4 linked regions of the Homo sapiens genome follow. The protein of the gene in region 4 binds, or shares a complex with, the protein of the main gene of each other region. Each region holds a gene or a part of one and is shown on either strand. Other genes may lie near its edges.

Region 1 (6,669 bases), on a different chromosome or scaffold from region 4:
GAGTCTCATCCCTGTCCATTTCTCCTTGCAGACGGTGGGCAAGAGCAGCAAGATGCTGCAGCATATTGATTACAGGATGAGGTGCATCCTGCAGGACGGCCGGATCTTCATTGGCACCTTCAAGGCTTTTGACAAGCACATGAATTTGATCCTCTGTGACTGTGATGAGTTCAGAAAGATCAAGTGAGGAGTGGACTGTGGGGGGCGGAGACTGGAGGATGGGAATGGATTGAGTGGGTGGGCCAAGCAATAGAGGTGGTGATGTAGCTAGTTGGTTCTTCTCTGTTTATTCTCCAGTTTTAGAGGGCAGACTTAAATGGGGACATTGAACGCTAAGAAATCTTTTTGAGTCCAGCAAACCTTGCTCTCTAGTCTAGCAAAGTACAAGTTGTGAAGGGCTGCTAGGCTTTTTGTTTCTCTCACTTTGCGTGCCCCTGGGTACTGGGGTAAAGGGCTCTCATGTTCTCCCCACAGGTGTGTGAGGGGGGAGAGCTTGAGTTTCTGGCCTCATTGCCTATTTGTAAAGCTGTAGCCTAAAGGGCTCTCCCAATGCAGCCTGGTCTGAAACTGCTTTAAGAAGCCTCTGACCCTCTTCAGGGTAAGTGCTCAGCTCCCCATGTGGGTTTGGGGCCAGTGATTTTTGTTGGCATTTATACAAACAATTGGAGATATTGTCTACTTTGCTACAATTCCGTAAGTTATTGGCTAACTCCCTTGCCTTGAGTCTCACAGATCTTAAGCTTTTGGCCCATTAAAAGATATGATTTAGCTTCCCATCATGTTTTACATTCAAGGCTACTTGAGGCACAAAAAGATGATGTGACTTCCGTGGCCAGCAGCTCTTTTGTCATATGCAGTGTCCATATTATTCTGTCACTCACTTTGAATTCCCTTTGATTCTCCTTGGGGCTGATTTCTTCTGTGACCCAAGGTCAAGAAGTATAGTTTAAAAATGTGGTAGGGATGCCTTGGTGCCAGGTACGTATTAGAGAGGGGCCAACAGATGAGCGTGGAGCTACTCCAAAGTTCCCTCCTGATTATAAAAAATGTTTATTGGAAAATATTTTTGAAAATACAAAGAAGTCTATGAATAGAAACTAAAATACCCCGAAGGGTTTTTTTCTAATTATGAAAGGACAATACATGGTTATTATTTTAAAAAATAAGAAAATGTGAGCCAAAAAAGGGAAAAACTGTCCATCCACAGACAACCAGTTAATATACTGTAAAATATCAAAACAAAATCTTTTGAGTTCTTTTTTTAAATCAGGCTATTTTTTCCCCTTTATTTTTAGGATCTAGCTTTAGCTTTTTTCCCCACTTTCCTATCCTGTTGCAGTTATTTTTCCTACTTCACATTTATATTTTGTTCATCTTTTTCTGGTTGTTGCTTTTTGGGGGTTTCTGTTTTTATGCTTTTGAGGAACAGATATGAAATTTCAATTTCTGTGTATGTGAAATTTCTCTTAACCTTTTCCTTCTATGGCTTCTCCTATTTCTGATGTAAGATGAGGGGCAGAATTATAGGCCTGTGAGGTTGAATTGATATTAGAAGGACACTGCACGTAAGTGAGGTGGGTGGGAGTCATTTGATTGGAATTGTTTAGGCAGCCTCCTGATGTTGGCAAGACCTTAAGCTGAAGGGAGGGAATAGGGTCCTAAGAAAGAAGACTTGGCTGAGGGAAGGGCCTTCACGGTTGCTGTGGAATAGCATTTGGGCCCGGGCTGGGCTTTGTTGACCTTGTCCTATCTCTTGGTCAGTGTGTCCTCTTGGCATGGTAGGAAACAGGTAGATAGCCACCTAAGAGGTTATGTGTTCAGCCTGTAGAGACTATCCAGGAGGGCTATCTTGGGAAAGTTTGTGTACTGTTTGTTAGGAGATGCAGTATAAGCAAATCTTGGAGGCCACTAGGCAGGTGAACTTTACCCACCTCTAACACTTTTTTTGTTCCTTCTAAACCTCTCTTTAGGCCAAAGAACTCCAAACAAGCAGAAAGGGAAGAGAAGCGAGTCCTCGGTCTGGTGCTGCTGCGAGGGGAGAATCTGGTCTCAATGACAGTAGAGGGACCTCCTCCCAAAGATGTAAGTCAGAGCAGGAAGCCTTGTGGAGGAGGGGAGGCCCTACTGTGAGCCAGGCTCTGTGTTAGATTCTGTTTCATTGCAGTTCTCACAGGCATCCTCTGGATTTTGCCCCCTTTTTCAGATAATAAATGAAATCTTAAAGAGGTTACCCTGCAAGAGGCCGGGCGCGGTGGCTCACATCTGTAATCCCAGCTCTCAGGGAGGCAAGAGGCGGGAGGATAGCTTGAGCCCAGGAGTTCGAGACCTGCCTGGGCAATATAGCGAGACCCCATTCTCCAGAAAAAGGAAGAAAAAAAAAAAGACAAAAAAAAAAAAAAGAGGTTACCCTGCAAGAAAGAAGTGGAAAAGGGGAACTAGAATTTGGGTATCTCAGACTTTAAAGCTCTACCTGTTTCTCAGTTGATGTACATAGTGAGTCAGTGGAGGAAGCACCTGAAGCCATCTGGGTCAGTTCTTAATGTGACGACAAAGCCTAGGTAGACCTTAAAAAGTTGTAACTCCGAAACAATAGGAAATGTGTGTATTTTGTTTTGTACAGTTACAGTTCATAGTTACTGAGAATCTACCTTGCGCCAACCACTTCAGTATTTTATTTGATCCTTTAGGTCTCTTTAGAGATAAATTCTCATCTTATAAATAGAATAAACCAGGGCTTAGTAACTTGCCCAAGGTGCCACAGCCACTAAGTGGTGAAACTGACATTTGATCTCAGACAGTCTTGATTCTGTAAACACCAAGCTACACATAGAAATAGAGCAGGCTTTAGAGACCTAGTCAAATTTGTTTTCCCTTTCCCTTTTTCATTTGAAGGGTTTTTTTTTTTTTTTTTTTTAGATTTTTAGATGGAGTCTCGCTCTGTCGCCAGGCTGGAGTGCAGTGGCACGATCTTGGCTTATTGCAACCTCTGCCTCCCGGGTTCAAGTGATTCTCCTGCCTCAGCCTCCCGAGTAGCGGGGATTACAGATGTGAGCCACCACGCCCTGCCAAGACGTTATTTTAATCAAAAGAGAATAATCCTTTTAACTTTTTAAAAATCCACATATATTATCTGGATTTTTTTGTACTTAACACATAGTGGGCATATATTATGTTGTTCTGTGTTTTCACTTAATGTTAACATTTTTCTAGTTGCTCAACACTTTTAAAGTCAAGTTAATGACTGAGATTTTCTCAAATGAGTACAGAGTAGTTTATCCTAATCATTTTCTTTTTTGGAGATTTTTACGTTTTTGCCTTTTCCAGTTAAAAATGTCTGCAAGGGATGTTAGCATATCTTGGTTCAAAGTCCATGTACATATTCAAATCTCTTAGTACCTACTTCCAGTAGAATTGGCTGGTCTAACATAACCCATCATAAACCTTTGTGATCACAACCAGTTGTACCATAACCATGTCATTTGCAGATAAGGCAACTCAGCCCGGGATTGTGGGATTATTTGTCCATTGTCACCTAGCGGATTAGAATCAGCTGGGAATGGATCTCATGTCCCTTTAATGCCTTGCCTGCTGAACCCTGAGTGGAACCCTGGCCCTTTGCTCTTGGTTTAACTTTCACAGGAGTGCATATAGGTGGTTGAGTTGTGGCATGTTTCTCTAGACTTACTCTTAAGTTCTACCCTGCTTCAGGGATAACTCATAGTCTTGGATGGAGGAAGAATGGTGTTGGCACACATGGAGAGGTAGTATTTATAAGCTATTTCGATAGTATTTATAAGCTATTTCGAGGGGCTCTCTTGGCAATGATATTCCAAAGTATACTTCTGATCTTCAGATCACTGGGCATCAGAGCATATTTGTTTATTTTTCAGACTGGTATTGCTCGAGTTCCACTTGCTGGAGCTGCCGGGGGCCCAGGGATCGGCAGGGCTGCTGGCAGAGGAATCCCAGCTGGGGTTCCCATGCCCCAGGCTCCTGCAGGACTTGCTGGGCCAGTCCGTGGGGTTGGCGGGCCATCCCAACAGGTGAGGAGTTGGGGAAAGGGTACCACCTCCTGGTGGCTAAAATAAAGGATAAAGGGGAGGGTCCATAGTTTTAAAAGGGTCCAGAGTGACCAACCTGTGATTGTCAGACTATCAGTGTTTCACTGTGGTTTATACATGGCCCTAGAAGCAAGTGAAAAGGATAAGTTGCCATTGTAAATTATGTTGATGCTATTAAAGAGATGTACGAATTAGCCAACTGTATTTAAGGAAAATATTTCCATGACAGCATTTGAAATCATGAGTCATATTTGAAAATGCAGTTGCCTTCTCTCACTTGGATTGGACATGCTTACATTCAGGTCTAGAAGATGGGAGTTGGGCATTCAAGCTTGATCTTTCCCGACATGTGGTTTTGGATGGGAAGTCTGGTGCTGAGAGTTGTAGCATTAAGGGATTTGGTGTCTGTTATTTCCCACTGTCCTTCCCCAAGTTGGGGAGGAGAGTGGGAAGCTGCATTGTACTGTACTCTTCTAACTCTTTCTTCTTATGTCCTCTTAGGTGATGACCCCACAAGGAAGAGGTACTGTTGCAGCCGCTGCAGCTGCTGCCACAGCCAGTATTGCCGGGGCTCCAACCCAGTACCCACCTGGCCGTGGGGGTCCTCCCCCACCTATGGGCCGAGGAGCACCCCCTCCAGGTGAGGAGCCCATAAGGAGACCAGTGCTAATTGATAGAAGATGCCTTAGCTGGATTAATGATGAGATATAACCTTGACTGAAGCTGATGATGAGTTTGTATAATTAAGCAGGATTACTCTGAGATCCAGCGTGGCTGACTGATGAGACTAGGTGGACAAGAGCCATTGGGAGCCCTGGGTGTTAGGCTCAAATGTCAGTTTTCTGGGAGCTGCTGAGAGGGTGGAATGGTCCATCTATCTCAGAACTTGGTGGAAAGCTTTGTAGTTTTTTTGCTACCTTTTCAAGATAGACACTTGAGCTATATTCTTGGGGCTTTTCTCTTGCAGGCATGATGGGCCCACCTCCTGGTATGAGACCTCCTATGGGTCCCCCAATGGGGATCCCCCCTGGAAGAGGGACTCCAATGGGCATGCCCCCTCCGGGAATGCGGCCTCCTCCCCCTGGGATGCGAGGTAAGTGCCTGCAGTGGTGACTTTGGCTTCTTTCCCTAGAGCCTAGTGGGATAGGAAATGGAGGGAAGATTGCATTTAGATCATATCCCATGGGCTTTCAAGCCTTAAATCTAGGGAAATCCAGAAAGGAAAGAGAAGAGGGAACATTTCTTAAATTGGGCTTACCTCCCCTCTTAGAAAAGTTAGAGCAGCCATGCACCCAGGGTGTTTCTCAATATCTAAGGCAGCGGCCTCAGGACACAATGAAATAATGCATTCTGAGGATCCCTAACAGAAGTTATGAGATTGTCTTATGCTCTTTGGTTTGACAGTGCCTAGTAATTAAGAGGGGGCTCTGGGCTTTGCTGTACTATTATGGATTTCTCTTTAACTTCAGTTGGAGAAATTCTGAGATCAGTCCCCACATGGATGAGAAAATAGGCCCCCAGGGAGTTTGGACTCCAAGCCCAGTGTTCTTTCCCTATAAGATAACCCATGGGCAAACTTGGTGACCCCTGTTTCTCTAGTCTGGATTATTCCTCTATGGGTTTTTATAGACATAGGAACCCAGTCAGCCTCAGAGTAGTCCCTAGTTAGCACATATGCCATGTATACCCCTCTCCTCACTCGATTACTGCAGGGCGTGGGAGGCTGGGGCAGGGTTGGGGATTCAAGTTGCAGATCAGGCACTGACTAAACTTCTTACTCTTACTTCAGGCCTTCTTTGACCCTTGGCCACAGAGTATGGAAGTAGCTCCGCAGAGGCGTGGGCTCGATTCCTCAGGGCCACGTTACCACAGACCTGTTTGTTTCTTATGCTGTTGTTCGTGGAGTCTCATGGGATTGTCTGGTTTCCCTTACAGGGCCCCCTCCCCCGGGAATGCGCCCACCAAGGCCCTAGACTCATCTTGGCCCTCCTCAGCTCCCTGCCTGTTTCCCGTAAGGCTGTACATAGTCCTTTTATCTCCTTGTGGCCTATGAAACTGGTTTATAATAAACTCTTAAGAGAACATTATAATTGCACCTATGGATCTTTATTTTTAGAAAAATCTTTGATATATTGGGTGCTTAATAGAGTCAAGAAGGGTTGCCTTGGAAAAAATTAACCCTGATCTTACCTTCTTCCCTATAAAATGTTTTACTACCCATTTGCATCTGTACATCCTCATACACTAAGATACTTACAAAATTGAACATTTTCACTTATCAGATTCAAAGATCAGTTTTGTTGAAATCAGTACCCATAATATCCTCTTGGGAAGGCACTTGTCTAGATAGCTTCTCCATGAAGCAAATGCTAAAAATGAAAATTCTGCTGGGAGAGGAACAATTTTGGCATAACTTTCTGCCAGGGTCACACACGTAACATATAACCTAACGTAACTTTTGAATTGTGGTATCTTCATGAGTTCTTCCACCCAAAGCCTGTGTTCACTGAGCAGCACTCTAGTACTTAGTGCATCAAGCTCTAAGGGTACAAAAATAAGGTGAACACTGTTGTAAAGTTACTGTGTAGGGGGAAGATAATTGTAAATG
Region 2 (7,889 bases), on a different chromosome or scaffold from region 4:
GAAAGGCCATTTACTGGGTTCATTCCGCAATTATGTGCTGGTCGCTCATCGCTGTGCCAGACTTTCTCTTTGCTAGGTAGCGGAGCACCTTACTAAAATACAGCACGGTGGGGCAAACCGGCAGATAAACTTCTTGCTGGCTCCCCGATACTCTGACAGCGATGCTTAACTGGGGGCTTATGAGTCGTCCCAGTTCTTGGTGAGAATCATTCAGCGGAGATTTGGGAGCGCTGAGGTGGAGGTTCCGGAAAGAGACGAGATGAGCTGAACCTTAGGAGTAAGAAGTGGTTTTTCCCTATAGAGAAGGGGAGTGCGTTGCAGGAAGAGCGCGCGGGCTGGAGGCAGGCGGGGCGGGCGGCCTCACCTCGGTGTCGCGGCAGGTACACCTGCAGGTCTGGCTTGCGGGGCCGCGTCGGCGCGGGCGTGTGCCGCCTCCTCACCTTCTCCTTGGCCGCCTGCTTCACCTTCTTGTCATAGTCGTCCCTGCGGGGAGCCGAGCGGGAGTCAGGGACTGTCGGGCCGGGCCAGGCCAGGCCAGGAGTGGTGGCGGCGGCGGCGCAGGGCGGGGCGGTACCGAGCGATCTGGTTCCGTCGGATATGGTGCACGAAGCCGTGGTTCATGTCCAGCCGCCCCCCAGGCTTGCAGCAGTGCCCCGGCCGGGGATGCGGCCCCGCCTCCATCAGGAGCCGGGGACGCAGAGTCGCCGCCGCCTCGACGGCCCCAACAACAGCCACCCGCCCACAGAGCTCCGCGCCGCCCCTTGCTCAGCTTCCGGCCCCGCATCCTGACTTCCGGTCTGGGAGGCCCCGGCCTGGCCAAGCGATGCAGCGCACGGAGTTTTCGGGTCTGGTCGGGTCGGGTGGAGTAGGGTATGCTTGACTTCCACCCCCCGGACGGAGGGCTTTTGTTTTTGTTTTTTTTTGTTTGTTTTTTCGTAACATATCAATAGGAAACAAGGACTTCGGCTTACAGCTGATACCAGAACCTTCAGAAAAATGCAAATCATCTATAACACAACTCGATGCTTACGGCGGTGCCTTCCCATCTTTTTTCTGGTAATAGGATGCTGTGCAATCCATCGCCATCTGCGTGACTTTGGCTGACTGTGTAACGCTGCCACTTCTCAGTTTCCTCATTAGTAAATGGGAACACCTAGAGCACCTACCTCAAATGGATTGTGAGGCCTTGAAGTGCTCAGGCAGGGCAACAGCGGCGCCCAGGCCGCAGGCGCCGCGAAGGCTCTCCTGGCCCGGCTTGCCTCCTGCTCACGGCGCCGATGGCTTAACTGTCCCCGCGGGAGGACCCAGGGTTTTTGAGGGACCTACGGGTGTATTATTTTCTTTTTTATTTATTTTTCCTTTTTTTTTTCTTTTTGAGAAGGAGTCTCACTCTGTCGCTCAGGCTGGAGTGCATTGGCGTGATTTCGGCTCACTGCAACCTCCGCCTCCCGGGTTCAAGCGATTCTCCTGCCTCAGCCTCCCGAGTAGCTGGGACTACATGCGCGTGCCACCACGCCCGGCTAAGTTTTGTATTTTTGGTAGAGATAAGGTTTCACCACGTTGGCCAGGCTGGTCTCGAACTCCTGACCTCAGGTGATCCGCCTGCCTCGGCCTCCCAAAGTGTTGGGATTGCAGGCATGAGCCACCGTGCCCGGCCCCTTTTTTTTTTTTTTCTATTTTTTCTGACCACTGGGTTCACGTCACAGCGTGTAAAATTCTCAAGTCCTTTTACAAAAGTCAAAATCAGGAATTCATGATTAGGACAGGGACAAACGGCTGGATGCAGTGGCTCATGTCTGTAATTCCAAAACTTTGGGATGCCGAAGTGGGAGTATCGCTGGAGGGAGGAATTTGAGACCAGCCTGGGCAACACAGCGAGACATCGTCTCTACAAGAAAAAAATACATTAAAAAAGAAAGAAAGAGCCGGGCGTGGTGGCTCACGCCTGTAATCCCAGCACTTTGGGAGGCCCAGGCGGGCAGATCAAGAGGTCAGGAGTTCGAGACTAGCCTGGCCAAAATGGTGAAACCCCGTCTCTACTAAAAAAAAATACAAAAAATTAGCTGGGCTTGATGGCCGGTGCTTGTAATCCCAGCTACTTGGGAGGCTGAGGCAGGAGAATCGCTTGAACCCGGGAGGCGGAGGTTGCAGTCAGCCGAGATCGAGCCACTGCAGTCCAACCTCCAAATCAAAAAACAAAAAACAAAAACAAAAAACAGGGACCAATGGTGGTCCAGCCACACGATGGAATATTACTGAGCAATCCAAAGGAAGATCTGTAGCTCAACAACATGGATGGATCATAAAATAAATATGCCCAGTGAAAGAGGCCAGGGACTCTGTATGATTCCATTTATATGAGACTCTAGGAAGTGCAAACTAATCTATAGTGACCGAGAGATCAGTTGATTTTTGTGGGGGTTCTCTGGGAGGAAGAGGATATCTTTGGGGCTGGGTAGATTCTTTAAATTTTTTTTTATTTTTTTATTTTTTTGAGGCAGGATCTCACTGTCGCATAGGTTGGATTGTAGTGGTGCAATCACTGCTCACTGCAGCCTCCACCTCTCAGGCCCAAACGATCCTCCTGCCTCAGCCTCCTGAATAGCATGCCACCATGCCCAGCTAATTTTAAAATTTTTTTGTGGAGATGGGGGGGGTCTCTCTATGTTGCCAAGGCTAGTCTTGAACTCCTGACCTCAAGTGATCCTCCTGCCTCAGGCCTCCCAAAGTGCTGGGATTATAAGTGTGAGCCACCGTACTGGGCCCAGATCCCGTCTCTTGATTGTGGTGATGGCTTCATGGGTGTATATGTTACAGGAAAGGGATCCCTATTCAGACCCCAGCAGAGGGTTCTTGGATCTTGTGCAAGAAAGAATTCAGGGTGAGTCCACAGTGCAAAGTAAAAGCAAGTTTATTAAGAAAGTAAAGTAGCCAGGTGTCGCGGCTTATGCCTGTAATCCCTGCACTTTGGAAGGGGAGGCGGGCGGATCACTTGAGGTCAGCACTTCCATACCAGCCTGGCCAACATGGTGAAACTCTGTGCCTACTAAAAATACAAAAATTAGCCGGGCATGGTGGCAGGTGCATGTAATCCCAGCTACTCAGGAGTCTGAGGCAGGATAATCACTTGAACCCAGGAGGCAGAAGTTGCAGTGAGCCGAGATCTCACCAATGCACTCCAACCTGGGTGACAGAGCAAGACTCTGTATCAAAAAAATAAAATGTAAAGTAGTGAAAGTACAGCTACTCCATTGACAGAATAGGGCGTTCCTGAAAGTAAAAGGAGGAACGCATCCACCATGGCTACAATGCTTGTTTATATATAGGATAAAAAGATCATGGGGAGATGTGCTCTGCTACAAGGGTTTGTGATAAAGGATTAATTTTATTATTATATTTTGCAAGAAGAAATATTATCTTTAAAGCAAAATTAGGAATGCCTTTATTCTCCAGATATTGGGATATTAGGACACTCCCAAGTCTGGATCTGTTTAGTAAACATTATCTCTCTGTTCCCTTAACTGTAGACATCTCTAGGCTAGGAATACCTAACTTCCTGGGAATGCAGCCTGTCAAGGCCCAGCCTCATTTTCCTAACCCTCACTCAAGATGGAGTTGGTCTGGTTGAAACGCCTCTGACATATACCGCAAGTCAGAATTCAGTAAATTGCACACAGTGTGGTGTGGTGTGGTGTGGTGTGGTGTGGTGTGGTGTGGTGTGGTGTGGTGTGGGTATGACAGAGTTTCACTCTGGTTGCCCAGGCTGGAGTGCAATGGGGCGATCTCGGCTCATTGCAACCTCCGCCTCCCGGGTTCAAGCGATTCTCCTGCCTCAGCCTCCTAAGTAGCTGGGTTAACAGGCTCGTGCCACCACGCCCGGCTAATTTTTGTATTTTTAGTAGAGATGGGGTTTCACCATATTGGCCAGGCTGGTCTCCAGTCCTGACCTCAGGTGATCCGCCCGCCTTGGCCTCCCAAAGTGCTGGTATTATAGGCATGAGCCACAGCGCCTGGCCTAAATTGCACACTTTAAACATGTAGTTTGTTGTATGTCAATTATACCTCAATGGAACGGTTCAAACAAGCAAACAAGTTCAAGGCAGGTCCTGAGGTTAGAGCTTTATTAGCTTCATGGTAAATCTGCCTTTACCGGGCATTTGCGTTTTCATGGTACCAAGAACCTTCTAAAAGTAGAATTAGGGCTGTCAAGGGGATGATTTGGGAATGTCGCCTAGTTTTCCTGTGCAGGATTGTCAGCCCCCAAGCCGCGGAGACTGTGGGAAACGACCTCACGGTGGTGGTTTCGAGGCACAAATCTGGGGCCGAATGACAGCTTCTTTGTTTTTGAGACGGAGTTTCGCTCGTTGCCCAGGCTGGAGTGCAATGGCGCGATCTCGGCTCACCGCAACCTCCGCCTCCTGGGTTCAAGCGATTCTCCTGCCTTAGCCTCCCGAGTAGCTGGGATTACAGGCATGCGCCACAATGCCGGGCTAATTTTGTATTTTTAGTAGAGACGGGGTTTCTCCATGTTGGTCAGGTTGGTCTCGAACTCCCGACCTCAGGTGATCCACCCGCCTCGGCCTCCCAAAGTGCTGGGATTACAGGCGTAAGCCACCGCGCCCGGCCTGACAGCTTTTATCCAGAAAACTGTCGCCAGTAAAGGTTCCCGTCTCAGTAAACTGTAAACGACAGTAGGCCCACAGAAGGTTCTAAGGGGAGAGGAAGCCAGTGCAGGAACAGCACCGCCCACAAATTTTCTGCAGCGTGATTTGTCCCCAGTGGCGACTCGTAGAGAGTTCGGGGCTCGCTACCAGCCCCTCTCCTGATTGGCCTTGTGCCGCGCGCTCGAGCGTGCTTGGCGCCTGCGCTGGACGACTCGGCCGGTAGTGGAGATGTCCGGCCGGTCTAAGCGGGAGTCTCGCGGTTCCACTCGCGGGAAGCGAGAGTCTGAGTCGCGGGGCAGCTCCGGTCGCGTCAAGCGGGAGCGAGATCGGGAGCGGGAGCCTGAGGCGGCGAGCTCCCGGGGCAGCCCTGTGCGCGTGAAGCGGGAGTTCGAGCCGGCGAGCGCGCGCGAGGCCCCGGCTTCTGTTGTCCCGTTTGTGCGGGTGAAGCGGGAGCGCGAGGTCGATGAGGACTCGGAGCCTGAGCGGGAGGTGCGAGGTGCGCGGGGCCGGGCCGGGCTAGGCGCGAGAGCCTGTTTTTTTCGCGTCCTTTTTTCTTGTCTCTAATCTTCCGCTAGGTCACTGCGCCGGAGTTGGGGGAGGGGTGGGGTTGGGGTGGAGAAGAGGAGGGATCCAGACTCGACGATTCTGCTGTTCGACTTGTTCTGATGAAGACAGTACCCTTCTCAATAATCGTATAGTATTTCTTTTTTCTTTTTTTTTTTTTTTTTGAGATGGAGTCTCATTCTGTCACCCAGGATGGAGTGCAGTGGCGCGATCTCGGCTCACTGCAACCTCTGCCTCCCCGGTTCAAACGATTCTCCTACCTCCGCCTCCCAGGTAGCTGGGATTACAGGCGCCCACCACCGCTCCCGCCACCACGCCCGGCTAATTTTTTGTGTTTTTAGTAGAGAAGGGGGTTTCATCGTGTTAGCCAGGATGGTCTCGATCTCCTGACTTCGTGATCCGCCCGCCTCGGCCTCCCAAAGTGCTGGGATTACAGGCGTGAACCACCGTGCCCGGCCAAACGTATGGTATTTCTAACTGCAAAAATCGTAACAACAGCAGCTTCCCTTTATCGAATGCCCGATGTGGGGGCTCAGTGCTGATTTTACAAGTGTTACTTCCTTCCATTTTAAAAAAGAATTTTTTTTTTTTTTTTTGCGTTTTAAGAGAAGCAAGTCTCGCTATGTTGCCTAGGCTGGTCTCGAACTCCTGGACTCAAGTGTTCCACTCACCTCGGCCTCCCAAAGTGCTGGGTTTACAGGCGTGAGCCACCGTGCACGGCTTTCCTTCAGTTTTTACATCTAAGGTCTTGTAATTTCTGTAATCAAGATATTCAGAATGCTTGAGCAATAGGCACCTCTACTAAAGTATGGATTATGTAGCACTTTTTAAGCTGAATAAAGTCTGGAGACAATTTTCCATTAGTCTCTTGAGTTTGTGCACGTACTGCGACCATTGCCTGACTGCCTTTTCTCCTGGACTCTCGTTAAGGATGTTCGTGTAGTGAGCAGCCTTGGAAGATAGAAATGGTGTCTCCCTACAAAACGAGGAGACAAGGGCACAATCCCTTATAAAAGATTTGGGGCAGGGTGTGGTGGCTCACACCTGTAATCGCAGCTACTCTATAGGATGAGGTAGAGTTCAAGACTAGGATAGGCAACAGAGCGAGACCTCGTTTGAAAAAATGGTTAATGGTTCAGATTCTCTAAGCACGGGGTTCGTCTCCTGTAAGGCAGCTCACTGTGTGCATGGGTTCTCCTCACTTTGCCTTGTGGGAATTCACTTGGAAAACTGACACCAATGCTATATTCCGGCTACTGTCATTGCTCTAATAAACTGTCCTTTATTTCAGGCCAGGTAGTCACATGCTTTCCATCAGCATTCATAAAACTGTGACAGGCTAACTTGTTAGCTTGCGAGTAGGGTAAGATCTGAGACCCACTCAAGTTTTTGACAAGTGGTAGATTTATAGATACACATGTACATTCTTTTTTTTTTTTTTGAGACAGTTTCACTCTTGTTGTCCAGGCTGGAGTGCAATGGCACGATCTCAGCTCACTGCAACCTCTGCCTCCCAGGTTCAAGCAATTCTCCTGTCTCAGCCTCCCAAGTAGGCTGGGATTACACGTGCATGCCACCATGCCCGGCTAATTTTTGTATTTTTTAGTAGAGATGGGGTTTTATTATATTGGTCAGGCTGGCCTTGAACTCCTGACCTCAGGTGAGCCGCCTGCCTCTGCCTCCCAGAGTGCTGGGATTACAGGCATGAGCCACTCACCCAGCCACTCTTTAAACTACGTAGTACATTTGTGGCCGGGCGCAGTGGCTCACGCCTGTAATCCCAGCACTTTGGGAGGCCAAGGAGGGTGGATCGCAAGGTCAGGAGTTCGAGACCAGCCTGGCCAACATGGTGAAACCCCGTCTCTTCTAAAAGTATGAAAATTAGCTGGGTGTGGTGGCTTGTGCCTGTAGTCCCAGCTACTCGGGAGGCTGAGGCAGGAGAATTGCTTGAATCCGGGAGGCGGAGGTTGCTGTGAGCTGAGATCGCGCCATTGCACTCCAGCCTGGGGGACAGAGCGAGACTCCGTCTCAAAAAAAAAAAAACAAAAAAAAAACGAAACACACAACTATATGGTACATTTGTATTACAATTAGTTTATTTTAGTGCTTGTGACATATTTCATATTTTTCATGCTTTATGGGATTTCTTTATGTAAAATGCAAACAAATCTTCTGTTGATTTTATGTATACCAAATATATTCTCCCAGTTTGTGGCTTGTTCTATTAGTGGGCTTTTTTCTTTTCTTTTTTTTTTGAGAGGGAGTTTTGCTCTTGTCGCCCAGGCTGGAGTGCAGCGGTACGATCTCTGCTCACTGCAACCGCCTTCTCCCAGGTTCAAGCAATTATCCTGCCTCAACTTCCTGAATAGCTGGGATTACAGGCACCCACCACCATGCCTGGCTAATTTTTGTGTTTTTTGTAGAGACGGGGTTTCACCATAGTTGGCCAGGCTGGTCTTGAACTCCTGACCTCAGGTGATCCACCCATCTCGGTTTCCCAAAGTGCTGGGATTATAGGCATGAGCTACCGCGCCCGGCTAGTGGACTTTTTTTTCGATATTGTTGCCACCCAAACAATAGGAACTCATCTTGATTAGTTTTTCCCATTTCTGTTTCTTTTTTTGTTCTGTTAGTTGGCCCTGAGTATAGGTTTCCCATTTT
Region 3 (7,021 bases), on a different chromosome or scaffold from region 4:
CACCCGGCTAATTTTTGTATTTTTACTAGAGACGGTGTTTCACCATGTTAGCCAGGCTGGTCTTCAGCTCCTGACCTCAAGTGATTCGCCCACCTCAGCCTCTCAAAGTGCTGGGATTACAGGCGTGAGCCACCATGCCTGACCCTTCCGTAATTTTTGAATTTTGAATATATCACCTATTCAAGAAAAAATGTTAAAGACAAATGTTTAAAAATATCTTGAAGCAGTTTAAGAACAGGTCTGTTTTGCAAAATGTAAGAGGAGTTGTTTGGCCATACCCTCAAAGCTTATCATTCTGAACTTCTTTAGGACAGAAGGGGTTTATAGAGACTAGGGAGCAGGTCTTTGCACCATCGTCTCTTGTTTCCCAAACTAGTAGTTCAAGTACTAATATCATGATTTTTTAAAAAAAATTAAGTATAGGCTGGGTGCGGTGGCTCACACCTGTAATCCCAGCACTTTGAGAGGCCGAGGTGGGCGGATCACGAGGTCAGGAGATCGAGACCATCCTGGCTAACAGGGTGAAACCCCATCTCTACTAAAAATACAAAAAATTAGCCGGGCGTGGTGGTGGGCGCCTATAGTCCCAGCTACTCGGGATGCTGAGGCAGGAGAATGGCATGAACCCGGGAGGCAGAGCTTGCAGTGAGCCAAGATCGCACCACTGCACTCCAGCCTGAGTGACAGAGCGAGACTCCATCTCAAAAAAAAAAAAGAAAATTAAGTATAATATTTTGTGTAGGTTCTGTTAGGTTTGCATGCATTATTTAAGTGGTTAACACTAGACCTGTAAGGTAGGTACTGTTTTCTTCCCCCTTCTAGACACTTAGGAGGTTTAGAGACTAAGTTCCTTATCCAAGATAACAAAGGCATTAAGTGGCAGAGTTAAGATTCAAACTCAGGTTTCTCTGACTCCAGAGTCTCAATCATCACACTATATTACTACCTAATATGCTAATCTTGCTTTAGGAACATGGGTTGAAAAATTCCAGTGCTCACTTATCTTGACTAAATTTTTTGCACTGTGGTGCAGGCAGAATGTGGTATAGTCATTCAAAACATTTTAAGTGTCTAGACCTGAGAGCCTTGTGGGTTTAAAAACCTGAATGGGAGAAGTAAGAAGGAGAAATTAACAGTTTTTCAATTTTTTTCCTGGAGAGCAGATCAAACAGATGATGGAGGCAGCAACACGACAAATCGAGGAGAGGAAAAAACAGCTGAGCTTCATTAGCCCCCCTACACCTCAGGTATTGTGTCTAGATTACTCTGAACAGAATAATCTTTGGCACAGAATTTCTTGCCATCCACTCAAAATGAGAGACTAGAAGAGGTGACTACATGTTTCACTTCATAATCATCTGCTACAGTCTACCATGATGTGTGTGTATATCTGTGTGTATGTATGTGTGTTTGTCTGCCTGTCTTAATTCCTCTGATTTCTTTTTCTCTATCTCACAGCCAAAGACTCCTTCTTCCTCCCAACCAGAACGACTTCCTATTGGCAACACTATTCAGCCCTCCCAGGCTGCCACTTTCATGAATGATGCCATTGAGAAGGCAAGGAAAGCAGCTGAACTGCAAGCTCGAATCCAAGCCCAGCTGGCACTGAAGCCAGGACTCATCGGCAATGCCAACATGGTGGGCCTGGCTAATCTCCATGCCATGGGCATTGCTCCCCCGTGAGTGTCTATTTCATGGAATACCTTTTCATTTCTGAAGTTTGAGAAGCAATAAATACCTTTGAATGTTACTGATCTGGCTGGGCGCAGTGCCTCAGGCCTGTAATCGTAGCACTTTGGGAGGCTGAGGTAGGTGGATCACCTGAGGTCAGGAGTCAGGAGTTCGAGACCAGCCTGGCCAATATGGTGAAAACCCATCTCTACTAAAAATACAAAAATTAGCCAGGCGTGGTGGTGCATGCCTGTAATCCCAGCTACTCGGGAGGCTGAGGCAGGAGAATCGCTTGAACACAGGAGGCAGAGGTTGCAGTGAGCTGAGATCGTGCCACTGCGTGGGTGACAGAGGGAGACTCCGGCTCAAAGAAAACAACAAACAAAATATTACTGATCCTCTTTTTCCACAGAACCTAGATCATTTCTCACAGTTTCATATTTCTTAGGTGTGATTGATTAACCAGTTGAATTTTTTCTCGTCTTCCCTGTTGGAGGGTTTATTATCTTCTTATGATTTATATAACTGAGATTAAGGTTATTCATCTAATGTTGGAGCTAGGAGTATAGCCAGGTTTCCTTCCTGGTTTCAAACTCAGATTTATCCATTAAACCACATTGTGTGAGACTAGATCTGAGGTTCCTCTGCAACTGGTCAAAGATGTTACATTTTTTTTAGCATCTACAGTTGGTCTGGCATCCCATGAGTGACATAAGAATTCAGGGATAAGGAAAGATAGGATTATAAATTCATATAATTTATAAACTCATTTCATTTGGTTGTCCTGTATACTGAAATATCCACTTTGATATTTTTAATCAAGATACTATTGGCAGGGCGCGGTGGCTCACACCTGTAATCCCAGCACTTTGGGAGGCCGAGACTGGCAGATTGCTTGAGCTCAGGAGTTCAAGACCAGCCTAGGCAACATGGCAAAACCCCATCTCTCTAAAATATACAAAAATTAGCCAGGCATGGTAGAGCATGCGTGTAGTTCCAGCTACTTAGGAGGCTGAGGTGGGAGAATTTCTTTGGGCCTGGGAGGTTGAGGTTGCAATGAGCTGTGATTGTGCCACTGTACTTTAGCCTGGGCAGCAGAGTGAGACCATGTCTCAAAAAAAAAGATGGTATTGCTCACTGATGAGATTGTTCCCTAGAATTATTTTATTGTCCTTTTTGTTGTTGTTGTTGTTGAGAGGGAGTCTCACTCTGTCACCCAGGCTGGAGTGCAGTGATCTCGGCTCCCTGCAACCTCTGCCTCCCAGGTTCAGTAGCTGGGACTACAAGTGCCCGTCTAAATTTTGTATTTTTTGTAGAGATGGGGTTTCACTGTGTTGCCAAGGCTGGTCTTGAACTCCTGGGCTCAAGCCATCCACCCGCCTCAGCCTCCCAAAGTGCTGGGATTACAGTGTGAGCCACCACACCCGTCCATCCAAATAACTCTTATAGAGAAGGCACTGCAGCCTCAACTTCCTGGGCTCAAGTGATCCTCCTCAACCTCCTGAGTAGGTGGGACCACAGGTATATGCCACCGCACCCAGCTAATTTTAAATTTTTTGTTGAGATGCAGTCTCCTTGTGTTGGCCAGACTGGTCTTTAACTCCTGGGCTCAAGTGATCCCTCTGCCTTGGCCTCCCAAAATGCTGTGGTTCCAGGCTTGAGCCACCACGCCTGGCTTTATTTTGTTTTTTGCTTGCCTTAATGTTCCATACAGGATTTATTTCTTTGCGGGCTATTTTTCAGGAAGGTGGAGTTAAAAGACCAAACGAAACCTACACCACTGATCCTGGATGAGCAAGGGCGCACTGTAGATGCAACAGGCAAGGAGATTGAGCTGACACACCGCATGCCTACTCTGAAAGCCAATATTCGTGCTGTGAAGAGGGAACAATTCAAGCAACAACTAAAGGAAAAGCCATCAGAAGACATGGAATCCAATACCTTTTTTGACCCCCGAGTCTCCATTGCCCCTTCCCAGCGCCAGAGACGCACTTTTAAATTCCATGACAAGGGCAAATTTGAGAAGATTGCTCAGCGATTACGGACAAAGGTATCTGGCTTAGAGTATAACACAGAATTTGGAAAAAGTTAAGAAGCTGACAAGAAAACATTGTTAAATCTCTGTGTTCTAGGAAATTAGATAAATAGGTCATTTAAAGCAGCAGTCCTCAACCTTTTTGGCACCAGGGACTTGTTTCATGGAAGATAATTTTTCCCCTGGAGTAAGGATGGTTTCGTGATGGTTCAAGCACATAGCATTTATTGTGTACTTTATTATTATTATTTTTTTCGAGATGGAGTGTCGCTCTTGTTGCCCAGGCTGGAGTGCAATGGGGCGATCTCGGCTTGCTGCAACCTTTGCCTCCCAGGTTCAAGTGATTCTCCTGCCTCAGCCTCCCGAGTAGCTGGGATCACAGGCATGTGCCACCACGCCTGGCTAATTTTGTATTTTTGGTGGAGACGGGGTTTCTCCGTGTTGGTCAGGCTGGTCTCGAACTCCTGACCTCAGGTGATCTGCCCACTTTGTCCTCCCAAAGTGCTGGGATTACAGGCGTGAGCCACCGCCCCCGCCTTTTTTTTTTTTGGGCGGGGAGGGGGATGGAGTCTTGCACTGTTACCTGGGCTGGAGTGCAGTGGTACAGTCTCAGCTCACTGCAACCTCTGCCTCCTGGGTTCAAGCAATTCTCCTGCCTCAGCCTCCTGAGTAGCTGGGACTGCAGGCATGCGCCGCCATGCCTGACGAATTTTTTGTATTTTTAGTAGAGACAGGGTTTCACTATGTTGGCCCGGCTGGTCTTAAACTCCTGACCTTGTGATCTGCCTGCCTTGACCTCCCAAAGTGCTGGGATTATAGGCGTGAGCCACTGTGCTGGCCTATTTCTATTATTATTTTATTGTAATATATGATGAAATAATTATATAACTCACCATAATATAAAATCACTGGGAGCCTTGAGCTTGTTTTCCTGCTGAAATGGTCCCATTTGGGTGTGATGGGAGACAGTGACAGATCATCAGGCATTAGATTCTCATAAGGAATGTGCAACATAGCCCCCTCACATGTACAGTTCACAATAGGGTTCGCGCTCCTCTGAGAATCTCATGCCACCGATGATCTGACAGGAGGTGGAGCTCAGGCCATAATGCAGGTAATAGGGAGCAATCGTAAGTACAGATGAGACTGTTGGCTTGCCTGCTGCTCACCTCCTGTTGTGCAGCCCAGTTCCTAAAAGACTGTTGGGTTGGGGACCCCTGATTTAAAGCAATGAATACTTTGAAAAATGTGCTGGACAAGATGGCTCAAGCCTGTAATCCCAGCGCTTTGGGAGGCCGAGGTGGGTGGATCACGAGGTCAGGAGTTCAAGACCAGCCTGCCCAACATGGTGAAACCCCGTCTCTACTAAAAGTACAAAAATTAACCGAGCGTGGTGGTGGGTGCCTGTAATCCTAGCTACTTGGGAGGCTGAGTCAGGAGAATCACTTGAAACTGGAAGGCAGAGGTTGCAGTGAGCTGAGATCGCACCACTGCACTCCAGCATGGGCAAAAGAGCGAAACTCCGTCTCAAAAAATATATATATATATTTATTAATATAATACATAATTTTTTTAGCAGATTTTACTTCCTAATTCGTTTCTACATAAGTGGAAATATTATGAAATTGAGTTTGAAAATTCTCCACATACAACTAAGTGGAGGGAAACAATTTGAAACATTCTGAGTGACTAAGGAAGGCTTGCCTGTAGTTAAAATTTAATGAGACAGTACACCTGGAGAGTTGAATTGATTGTATATTGAATGACCTTTGCCGCCTTTTTATCCTCTCAAAGTGAGGTTTTCATAAAATTCCTTTTTTTTTTTTTTTTGAGACGGAGTCTCGCTCTGTCACCCAGGCTGCAGTGCAGTGGCACGATCTCAGCTCACTGAAAGCTCCGCCTTCCAGGTTCATGCCATTCTCCTGCCTCAGCCTGCTGAGTAGCTGGGACTATAGGCGCCCGCCACCACGCCCGGCTAATTTTTTTGTATTTTTAGTAGAGACGGGGTTTCACCGTGTTAGCCAGGATGGTCTCGATCTCCTGACCTCATGATCCTCCCGCCTCGGCCTCTCAAAGTGCTGGGATTACAGGCGTGAGCCACCACACCCGGCCATAAAATTCTATTTCTGCGTATTTACTGCAGGCATATACTGTGGAGTGCAGGGAGGGGTTGAAGGTGAGATCTATGTATATGAACTAAATAAAGGATAAAATAAAGCAGAACAACTCCTTTCTAAGCTTTCAGAAATTATGAACTTGTTGCGTTAGGTGTAAAGAGTTCAACGGGGAAGTGTTTTAAAATTTGGGATTCTTGGCCGAGGTGGGCGAATCACTAGGTCAGGAGATCGAGACCATCCTGGCTAACATGGTGAAACCACTTCTCTACTAAAAATACAAAAAAATGAGCCGGGCGTGGTGATGGGCGCCTGTAGTCCCAGCTACTCGGGAGGCTGAGTCAGGAGAATGGCGTGAACCCGGGAGGTGGAGCTTACACTGCACTGCACTGCAGCCTGGGTGACAGAGTGAGACTCCGTCTACAAAAAAAAAAAAAAATATTTGGGATTCTGGCCGGGCACAGTGGCTCATGCCTGTAATCCCATCACTTTGGGAGGCCGAGGCGGGCAGATCACCTGAGGTCGGGAGTTTGAGACCAGGCTGAGCAACGTGGAGAAACCCCATCTCTACTAAAAATACAAAATTAGCTGAGGGTGGTGGCACATGCCTGTAATCCCAGCTACTGAGGAGGCTTAGGCAGGAGAATCGCTTAAACCTGGAAGGTAGAGGTTGCTGTTAGCCAAGACCATGCCATTGCACTCCAGCCTGGGCAAGAAGAACGAAACTCCGTCTCAAAAAAAAAAAAAAATTGAGATTCTACACATTCTGTTTTCTATGACTCCAATTTATCTTTCTGTCTTGGATTATCTTGTTTTTAGGCTCAACTGGAGAAGCTACAGGCAGAGATTTCACAAGCAGCTCGAAAAACAGGCATCCATACTTCGACTAGGCTTGCCCTCATTGCTCCTAAGAAGGAGCTAAAGGAAGGAGATATTCCTGAAATTGAGTGGTGGGACTCTTACATAATCCCCAATGGCTTTGATCTGTGAGTTTGTTTTAGTACCTTTTTAAAAAAACAGTTTTTAATCAGCTGAGTTTAAGACTCAAGTTAATACCTTTTAGTAAAGCTATGGTTTTAGTGGGAAGGATGGTACTCATTCATTAATTAAAATTTTTAAATCCAAGAGAGATAAGTAACTGTACACAAGGTCCTGTTATTTTTTTTTTTTTTTTTTTTGAGAGGGAGTCTCGCTCTGTCAC
Region 4 (7,513 bases):
ACTCCCCAGTTCAGACGATTCTCCTGCCTCAGCCTCCCAAGTAGCTGGGATTACAGGCGCACGCCACCACTCCCAGCTAACTTTTGTATTTTTAGTAGAGACAGGGTTTCACCATGTTGGCCAGGATGGTCTCGATCTCCTGACCTCGAGATCTGCCCGCCTCGGCCAGCTCCTGTCACTTCTAACAGAAATAGCATAAAGTATCCAGCAGGAAAAGTGCACACAATATCACAGAAAAGATAGGGACTGCCAGCTCATTTCCCACCTCCCCTTGTAACTGCCATAAATTCCTTCCTAAATGGTGAAAGCCGTTTTTGCAGTAACTTGTGTTCCGGGCCATGGGTTTTCAAGTCCATGTCTTTTTCTCAATGAAGGATGGTTCCTTCCCTGGCACAGGGCCACAGCAAGGGTGGCATGGCCCAGCAAGGCTGAGTTTTTCCACCGGGCCCAGCACAATCGCTGAGGTCCCAGTACAGGTCTTGGGGTCTTGTCTGTGTCTCCCCTCCCCTCCTGTCCTCTTGTCTGCGTCTTCCCTCCCCTCCTGTCCATGGGTGCTGCCTCCACACCTCAAGGCCTCTCTTACATGCTTCACAGATGGATGCCTGGTCCCATGTGGGTGTGGCTCGAAGGTCCCTCTTGCTGCTAGAGTGCTCTCTTCATGAGTGGCAGTGATACTCAAGTTTGTCAAACAGACACATTTCTGACAAGTGCACAAACTGGGTTTTGGGTTTTTTGAGACAGGGTCTTGCTCTGTTGCCCAGGCTGGAGTGCAGTGGCACAATCTCAGCTCACTGTAGCCTAGACCTCCGAGGCTCAAGCGATCCTCCCACCTTGGCCTCCCAACTACCCAGGACTACAGGTGCATACCACCATGTCTGGCTAATTTTTGTAGAGACAGGATTTCACCATGTTGCCCAGTCTGGTCTCAAACTCTTGGGCTCAAGTGATCCACCCTCCTTGGCCTTCCAAAGTGCTGGGATTACAGGTGCGAGCCACCACGCCTGGCCAAATTGGGTTTTTATAAATGAAAATTGTGCTTCCCCAGTGGAACCCTGATCTCTCAGGGGTGTGTTTTTTAAATTTGAAACATATTTTTTTTTAGTTTCTCTGTCCCATTTTCCAAGCTGTCTGCTTACAAGAACCACAGAGAATGCTGGCAAGCTTGTCCGATCCCTACTATAGCACAGTGAAATAAACTGAGCCCAGAGCCAAGAGCCCAGAGAGAGGCCTCACCCAAAGTCACACAACCAACAACCACAGCTCCCCCTCAAGGGAAAGAGGATGGGGAGGGGAAGCTATGTAAGCACGTGTCTGGAAGCTCAGAAGCCAGCACTGGCCCCTTTCCCATGGGGCTGGCACAGGAGGATGGGCAAGCCCCAGCTGCACAGGGCTCGGCCCCTCACTTCCCAGCTGCACAACTTTGAACAAGTCCCTCAACCCTCCCGATCCATCCGTAAATTGGGTGAATAATTTCCACCTTGGCTGACTTCACAAGGAATCCAGGCAAGAATGGGAATGAAATAGCTTTGTAAAGGTGAGGGTGAGGACATGAATATCAAGTCCTTAGTGAAGATAAGCGGGCTCAGGAATGGAGATCAACAGTTGTGTCCATGGTTAGCTGCACAAAGGCCTGTCTCCCCTGCAGGCGCCAGGAGCGACAGCGCTTTGCTGAGTACCAGGCGGAGCTGCAAGGCATCCAGCACAGGGTGCAGGCCCGGCCCTTCCTGTTCCAGCAGGCTATGCAGGTGAGGCTGGCACCTGGGCAAGCACATAGCTGCCCCCTGTGAAGAGCTGGCTGAGTGGGTAGGGAAGCAGGATGCGAGTAGGTCCCTGCAGATAGGATCCCAGGGCTGCTGCCCTCTGGAATCCCTGGGACCCCCTCAGTAACCCGATCCCCACCTTGCCCTCGGCAGCCCTGGTGCAGAGCAGGAAGCCGTCTTCTCTCTCCTCAGGCCAATGCCCGGCTCACCGTCACTCGGCGCTTCTCCCAGGTGCTGTCAGCACTGGGGCTGGATGAGGAGCAGCTGCTGTCTGAGGCAGGAAAGGTGGACAGAGAGGGCACCCCCAGGAAACCCAGGTGAGTCTCCCCGTCAGGTCAAGAACTGACTCTGCCATGCTGCTGCGGGAAGGGGCGCCCACACCAGCACTCTGGGCTCTGGAGGGCCTCCCCCAGGACAGGCAGAGAGCCCAGAGGAAGGCAAGGCCAGGGTTGTCATTCCTACTTCTCAATGAGGAAACTAAGGACCTGAGGGGAAGGGCCTTCTTTAAGGACGCAGGAGCGAACAAGCAGCAGAACCAGTCTGGGACTCTGCAACCATCTGAGCGGCCACACACCAAGTCCCTCATTAGGGGCTGGCACCACCACGCTGGTCACCCCATGCCTTAGAATAACCTGGTACAGAGCAGCGATTATGAAGCCCACTTGACAATAAGGAAAGTGAGACTCGAGAAGAGTCACTTTGCCCAGGATCACACAGCAAGCCGGCACTGAAGCAGGGTTTGAAGCCACATTGTCAGTGGTTTCCTTGGGCATGGGGGTGGGAGCTGCAGAGTCAGGGGCCTCTATCTGTGTCTTGAAGGAGCCACAGGTCAATGGGGGTGAGAATGGAGCACTCTCCTCAGAGGCCCCCAAGGACAGAACCCACCGGCAGCCAGCCTGACAGGCACTACAACCCCAGCCTGGACCCGGAGTGCAGTCCCTGAGATAAAATTAAAGGCTTTATGGCAAACACAGTATGAGATTTCTGGTGGTGGGGGTGGTGGAAGCTACGGGTTGGAAGTTGGAGGTGGCAGGTGGGTGGGCAGCAGGCTTAGCTCTGTCCCCGCACCCCCTCCCCACCAGGAGCTTTGGCTCTTTTGGTTCCCCCCACCCAGTACACACAGCCCCTTCTCTGCTCCTGAGGAGTGGGGACATCTCAAAGAGCAAGAGCTGTGACTTCTCCACCCCATCTCCAATGTATATGTTGGGTCCTATAAATTCAAGCATGAATAAGATGAAATGACTCCTGCCTCTGAGGACGCCCAGTGAGTGGGAGAGGGGGTGGATCCTTAAAGGGGCGCATACAACATAGCCTAACACATGCTGAGTTGTGCCACACAGGGAGCCACAGACTGAGCAACCACTGGGTGAGGGGAGGGGTTTCAGGAGAGATTGGGATTGTGTGCACTGCGCTTTTTTTTTTTTTTTTTAAGACAGAGTCTCGCTCTGTCACCAGGCCGGAGTGCAATGGTGTGATCTCAACTCACTGCAACCTCTGCCTCCCAGGTTCAAGCGATTCTCCTGCCTCAGCCTCCTGAGTAGCTGGGACTACAGGTGTGCGCCACCACACCCAGCTAATTTTTGTATTTTTAGTAGAGACGGGGTTTTACCATGTAGGCCAGGATGGTCTCGATCTCTTGACCTCGTGATTCGCCTGCCTTGGCCTCCCAAAGTGCTGGGATTACAGGCGTGAGCCACCGCGCCCGGCCTGCACTGGGGTTTTAAGTCCCAATAGTTTTAAGTTAGGGCTGGTCTCCTCAAGAAAAAAACTCATACACACAGATGTGCCACATTTTGCATTCAATTTCAGGGGTTCCAGGGATACACTGACGCCCATGTGGAGCTCCTAAACAATCTTAACAGTTCACGGGGCCAGGTTTTAAAAATCCAATCCAGGGCCAGGCGCAGTGGCGCATGCCTGTAATCTCAGCACTTTGGGAGGCCAAGGCGGGTGTATAGCCTGAGCTCAGGAGTTCGAGACCAGCCTGGCCAACATAGTGACCCCACCCCCTACCCCCGCTCCCCACCAACCATCTACAAAAAAATACAAAAATTAAAGGGGCGTGGTAGCGTACTCTCGTAGTCCCAGCTACTGGGAAGGCTGAGGTGGGAGGATCACTTGAGCCCAGGAGGTCGAGGCTGCAGTGCGCTGTGATCACGCCACTGCACTCCAGCCTGAGCAACAGAGTGAGATCCTATCTCAAGGGAAAAAACAAAACAAAACAAAACAGGGAACGTGGGAAGGAAGCGTTCCCTGACGATACTGGTTATAGCGGGTCTGAAGCTGGGCTGTGGAATTGGAGATCTCGGGAAAACAACACCCGTTGGAGCCACGACCCTAGGAGTCCACTAAGCGAGCGCCCATTGTAGGAGGGAGGTGTCTACGGAAAGACCGTGAGGTAGTGAACACCCCGTTGCCGGTGAAGTGCAAGCGCAGGGAGGCCGGGGAGGAACTTAAAGCCACGAAGACACTGACTTAATGGGCTCTAAGTCCTTCCAGTTCTGGGATCCCACCTCCGGGTTAATTCCGCTTCCCTTGAGGAGCGCATGCGCAATGGGACCACTCGCTCAAAGAACCCACCCGACCCGAGACGGCGCGAATGTGCAGTCGAGCGCTGATCCCGGCCTTCCCATGAGCCTCTGGGGCAGGCTCCAAGGCGAGCGACGGAAGCAGCCGCTCTTAGTTTCCGGCAACACGACAGCGGCTGCCGAGCGACCCGGAAGTATTCCCATTTTGCGTTGTCTGGGCTCGGCGGCAGCCGGGCTCGGAGTGGACGTGCCACTATGGGGTCGTCCAAGAAGCATCGCGGAGAGAAGGAGGCGGCCGGGACGACGGCGGCGGCCGGCACCGGGGGTGCCACCGAGCAGCCGCCGCGGCACCGGGAACACAAAAAACACAAGCACCGGAGTGGCGGCAGTGGCGGTAGCGGTGGCGAACGACGGAAGCGGAGCCGGGAACGTGGGGGCGAGCGCGGGAGCGGGCGGCGCGGGGCCGAAGCTGAGGCCCGGAGCAGCACGCACGGGCGGGAGCGCAGCCAGGCAGAGCCCTCCGAGCGGCGCGTGAAGCGGGAGAAGCGCGATGACGGCTACGAGGCCGGTGAGGAGGCGGGGCCTGCGCAGGGGGCGGGTCGGGCGGGGGTCCCGGAACGCGTGGGTCTGGGTGTGCGCGCAGTGTCAGCGAAGCTCTTCAGGCCAGGAAACCCCCAAGCTGTTTACCAGCTCTATTAAATAGTCTTTCTACGGGATCCCTTGAGCCCAGGAGTTAGAGGCTGCAGTGAGCTGCGGTCCCGCCAGTGTACTCCAGCCTGGGCAACAAAGCGAGACTCTGTCTCAAAAAGAAAAAAGTCTTTCTACGGTTGTTTAGGATTAGAGGTTGACTTTCTCCACTCAGCTGCTTGAGGACAGAGGGCTTCTGTTTTCCTCAGTTGTCTGGTACAATCAGATTCTCAATAAATATGTTGAATGAGTGAATGAAGTAGTGTCAGCATATACAGAGGCAAGAAAAACCTGGTATTGGACGAATCGTGTAGGGCGCATGGTAGAGAAATGAGGGAGTAAGATAGACAGGGATGTGAACACAAAGGACCCTGTACTGTAGTCTCTGTTAAGAACTGTAGATTGTCTTGAGGATAGTAGGGAGCCATGGATGTGAGTTGAGGAGTGAGTTGCTCAGATCCGTATTTTGTAAACATCACTGGATTGAGAATTTAGTCAAAGGTAGTCAGGACTGGAGACCAGGAAACCAGGAGGGCTATAGGCCAGGGGAGGGCTGATGGTGGCCTGCACCAAGGCAGCAGCAGTGGGATTGAGAGAAGTGGACAGGTTGGAGAGGTGTTTTGGAGGAGGAATGAACAGAACTCAGCACTTGTATGAGGGTGGGAAGAAGGAATGGAGGATGACTCCTTGAATTTTGGCTTGAGCAGCCAGATAGGTAGTGGGTGTCATTTCTACTGAAATTGAGGAGTAGGGAAGAGAAGCAGATTTGGAGCGGGGGTGGGGGGAGATAGTTCACTTTTGGGGTTGTCAAGGTTGATGGTAATGGGGAAATCCAGAGTTTGGACTGGATAAAGCCATTGGGAGTCAGTATCTGGGTGGCCAGTGAAGCCCCTGAAAGACTGTGACATGAGAAGAGGGGGTCAGGACTAGAACCTGAGAAATGCCCTTATGTTAGTAGTAGGCAGAGAAAGATGTTACCAAAAAAAGGAGACAGAGTAACCAAAAAGGCAGGAAAACCTTTGTGTCATGGGAACTTTGGGAAGAGAGTATTGTTAGAAGGAGGGAGCGATCAGCAGTCCCACATACCACAGGAGATCAAGCAAAACCAGAACCGAAAAGAACCCACTAGATTTAGAAACGAGGAGGCTGGTGACCTTGGGGAGCCTGGAGAGGTTGGGATCCATGGCCCAGGTGGAGAGAGAAGCCTTTAAGATAAAGGAGAAGGTAGGATGCAGGATGGGAATGCAGGAAAGGAAGAGTTTTTTTTTTGTTTTGTTTTGTTTTTTTGAGACAAAGTCTTGCTCCATTGCCCAGGCTAGAGTGCAGTGGCACGATCTCAGCTCACTGCAAGCTCTGCCTCCTGGGTTCAAGCAATTCTCCTACCTCAGCCTCCCGAGTATCTGGGATTACAGGTGCGCACCACCGTGCCTGGCTAATTTTTATATTTTTAGTAGAGACGGGGTTTCACCATCTTGGCCAGGCTGGTCTTGAACTTCTGACCTCGTGATCCATCTGCCTCGGCCTCCCAAAGTGCTGGGATTACAGGCATGACCCACCATACCCGGCCCAGACCTTGTCTGTTAAAAATGAAAGAAAAAAGTAGAGGGCAGAGTGGTGACTACAGCAGTTTGGATGTCTTGGGTCAGGAAAGGAAGGTGCACAGAAGAGGCAGGGCTCTGAGACTGGACTCGGGCAGAGGAGCTGCTGGGGAGCTTGGGTGGAAGAAGCTGCTGTTTTCTGGTGTTTCAGCAGGCCCAGGTGCTGGTGAGGGGCCCTCATTTTTGTTCCTGCAGCTGGAGCCAACGATGCTGGCTTCTTGGCCCTGTGTTCAGCTCCTGAGCCATGCTTCTTCTTGTTCCAGCTGCCAGCTCCAAAACTAGCTCAGGCGATGCCTCCTCACTCAGCATCGAGGAGACTAAGTGAGTACTGTCTCCCTTGTTTCTACTTTGTTTTTCTAAGAGAGGTGGCTCTGGGGCCAGCACGGGGGAGGCTTTCTCACATGAAAGTGTGCTAATCAGAGTTGGAAAGATTGTTTAAATCATCTTAGCCAACAGTTGACTTATAGAAGAGAAAACTAAAACCTAAGAGTAAAGTGGCATTCACTGGTTAGACGCAGACCAGGCTGGTGCCCATGTTTCCTGCTTTGGAGGCCAGGGCCCTTCCCAGTGTCCTAGGCTGCCTGGGGCAGACTTTGTGTTTGGGACCACTCACTCCCACCCTGTTTCTCCTCTTGTCTGTCTGGAAATGCACATGGCACCCTGTGTCTTTAATAGCCCCTAACACTTGTATCTCTTGTTGTCAGCAAACTCCGGGCAAAGTTGGGGCTGAAACCCTTGGAGGTTAATGCCATCAAGAAGGGTGAGTATGGGGCTGAGGATAGGGTTTGGGGGAAAGAGGCCATCTGAAGGGGTCTTTGAAGAAGGTGGGGTTAGAGGGCAGGTTCAGCACTGTTTAGTGGTCTTACACATGCATATTTGCCGGAAGGCATGAGGTCCCTCCTTGCTGGTATAATGGGGATCTGGGGCTCCGCCTGCTCTC

Evidence for each region.
Region 1: SART1 (region 4) and SNRPB share a complex: the UniProt entries of both Homo sapiens proteins name them as parts of the U4/U6-U5 tri-snRNP complex.
Region 2: SART1 (region 4) and USP39 share a complex: the UniProt entries of both Homo sapiens proteins name them as parts of the U4/U6-U5 tri-snRNP complex.
Region 3: SART1 (region 4) and PRPF3 share a complex: the UniProt entries of both Homo sapiens proteins name them as parts of the U4/U6-U5 tri-snRNP complex.

The regions. Positions count from the first base shown.
Region 1 is NC_000020.11:2,461,121-2,467,789, reverse strand, and holds the end of SNRPB (small nuclear ribonucleoprotein-associated proteins B and B'), read left to right. Parts: intron 1-31; coding exon 32-183; intron 184-1,970; coding exon 1,971-2,082; intron 2,083-3,890; coding exon 3,891-4,043; intron 4,044-4,562; coding exon 4,563-4,701; intron 4,702-4,742; exon of another isoform or gene 4,743-4,838; intron 4,839-5,028; coding exon 5,029-5,154; intron 5,155-5,850; coding exon 5,851-5,861; 3' UTR 5,862-5,996; coding exon of another isoform or gene 5,997-6,034; 3' UTR 6,035-6,148; downstream 6,149-6,669. UniProt on the Homo sapiens protein: Plays a role in pre-mRNA splicing as a core component of the spliceosomal U1, U2, U4 and U5 small nuclear ribonucleoproteins (snRNPs), the building blocks of the spliceosome.
Region 2 is NC_000002.12:85,611,304-85,619,192, forward strand, and holds the start of USP39 (ubiquitin carboxyl-terminal hydrolase 39), read left to right. Parts: upstream 1-4,882; 5' UTR 4,883-4,892; coding exon 4,893-5,160; intron 5,161-7,889. Other genes in the region: UPF0561 protein C2orf68, read right to left, coding at 365-483, 575-681.
Region 3 is NC_000001.11:150,331,521-150,338,541, forward strand, and holds part of PRPF3 (U4/U6 small nuclear ribonucleoprotein Prp3), read left to right. Parts: intron 1-1,163; coding exon 1,164-1,247; intron 1,248-1,458; coding exon 1,459-1,679; intron 1,680-3,414; coding exon 3,415-3,721; intron 3,722-6,639; coding exon 6,640-6,806; intron 6,807-7,021. UniProt on the Homo sapiens protein: Plays a role in pre-mRNA splicing as component of the U4/U6-U5 tri-snRNP complex that is involved in spliceosome assembly, and as component of the precatalytic spliceosome (spliceosome B complex).
Region 4 is NC_000011.10:65,957,238-65,964,750, forward strand, and holds the start of SART1 (U4/U6.U5 tri-snRNP-associated protein 1), read left to right. Parts: upstream 1-4,496; 5' UTR 4,497-4,543; coding exon 4,544-4,856; intron 4,857-6,836; coding exon 6,837-6,894; intron 6,895-7,277; coding exon 7,278-7,333; intron 7,334-7,513. Other genes in the region: TSGA10IP (testis-specific protein 10-interacting protein), read left to right, coding at 1,646-1,745, 1,914-2,077, 2,580-2,703. UniProt on the Homo sapiens protein: Plays a role in mRNA splicing as a component of the U4/U6-U5 tri-snRNP, one of the building blocks of the spliceosome. May also bind to DNA.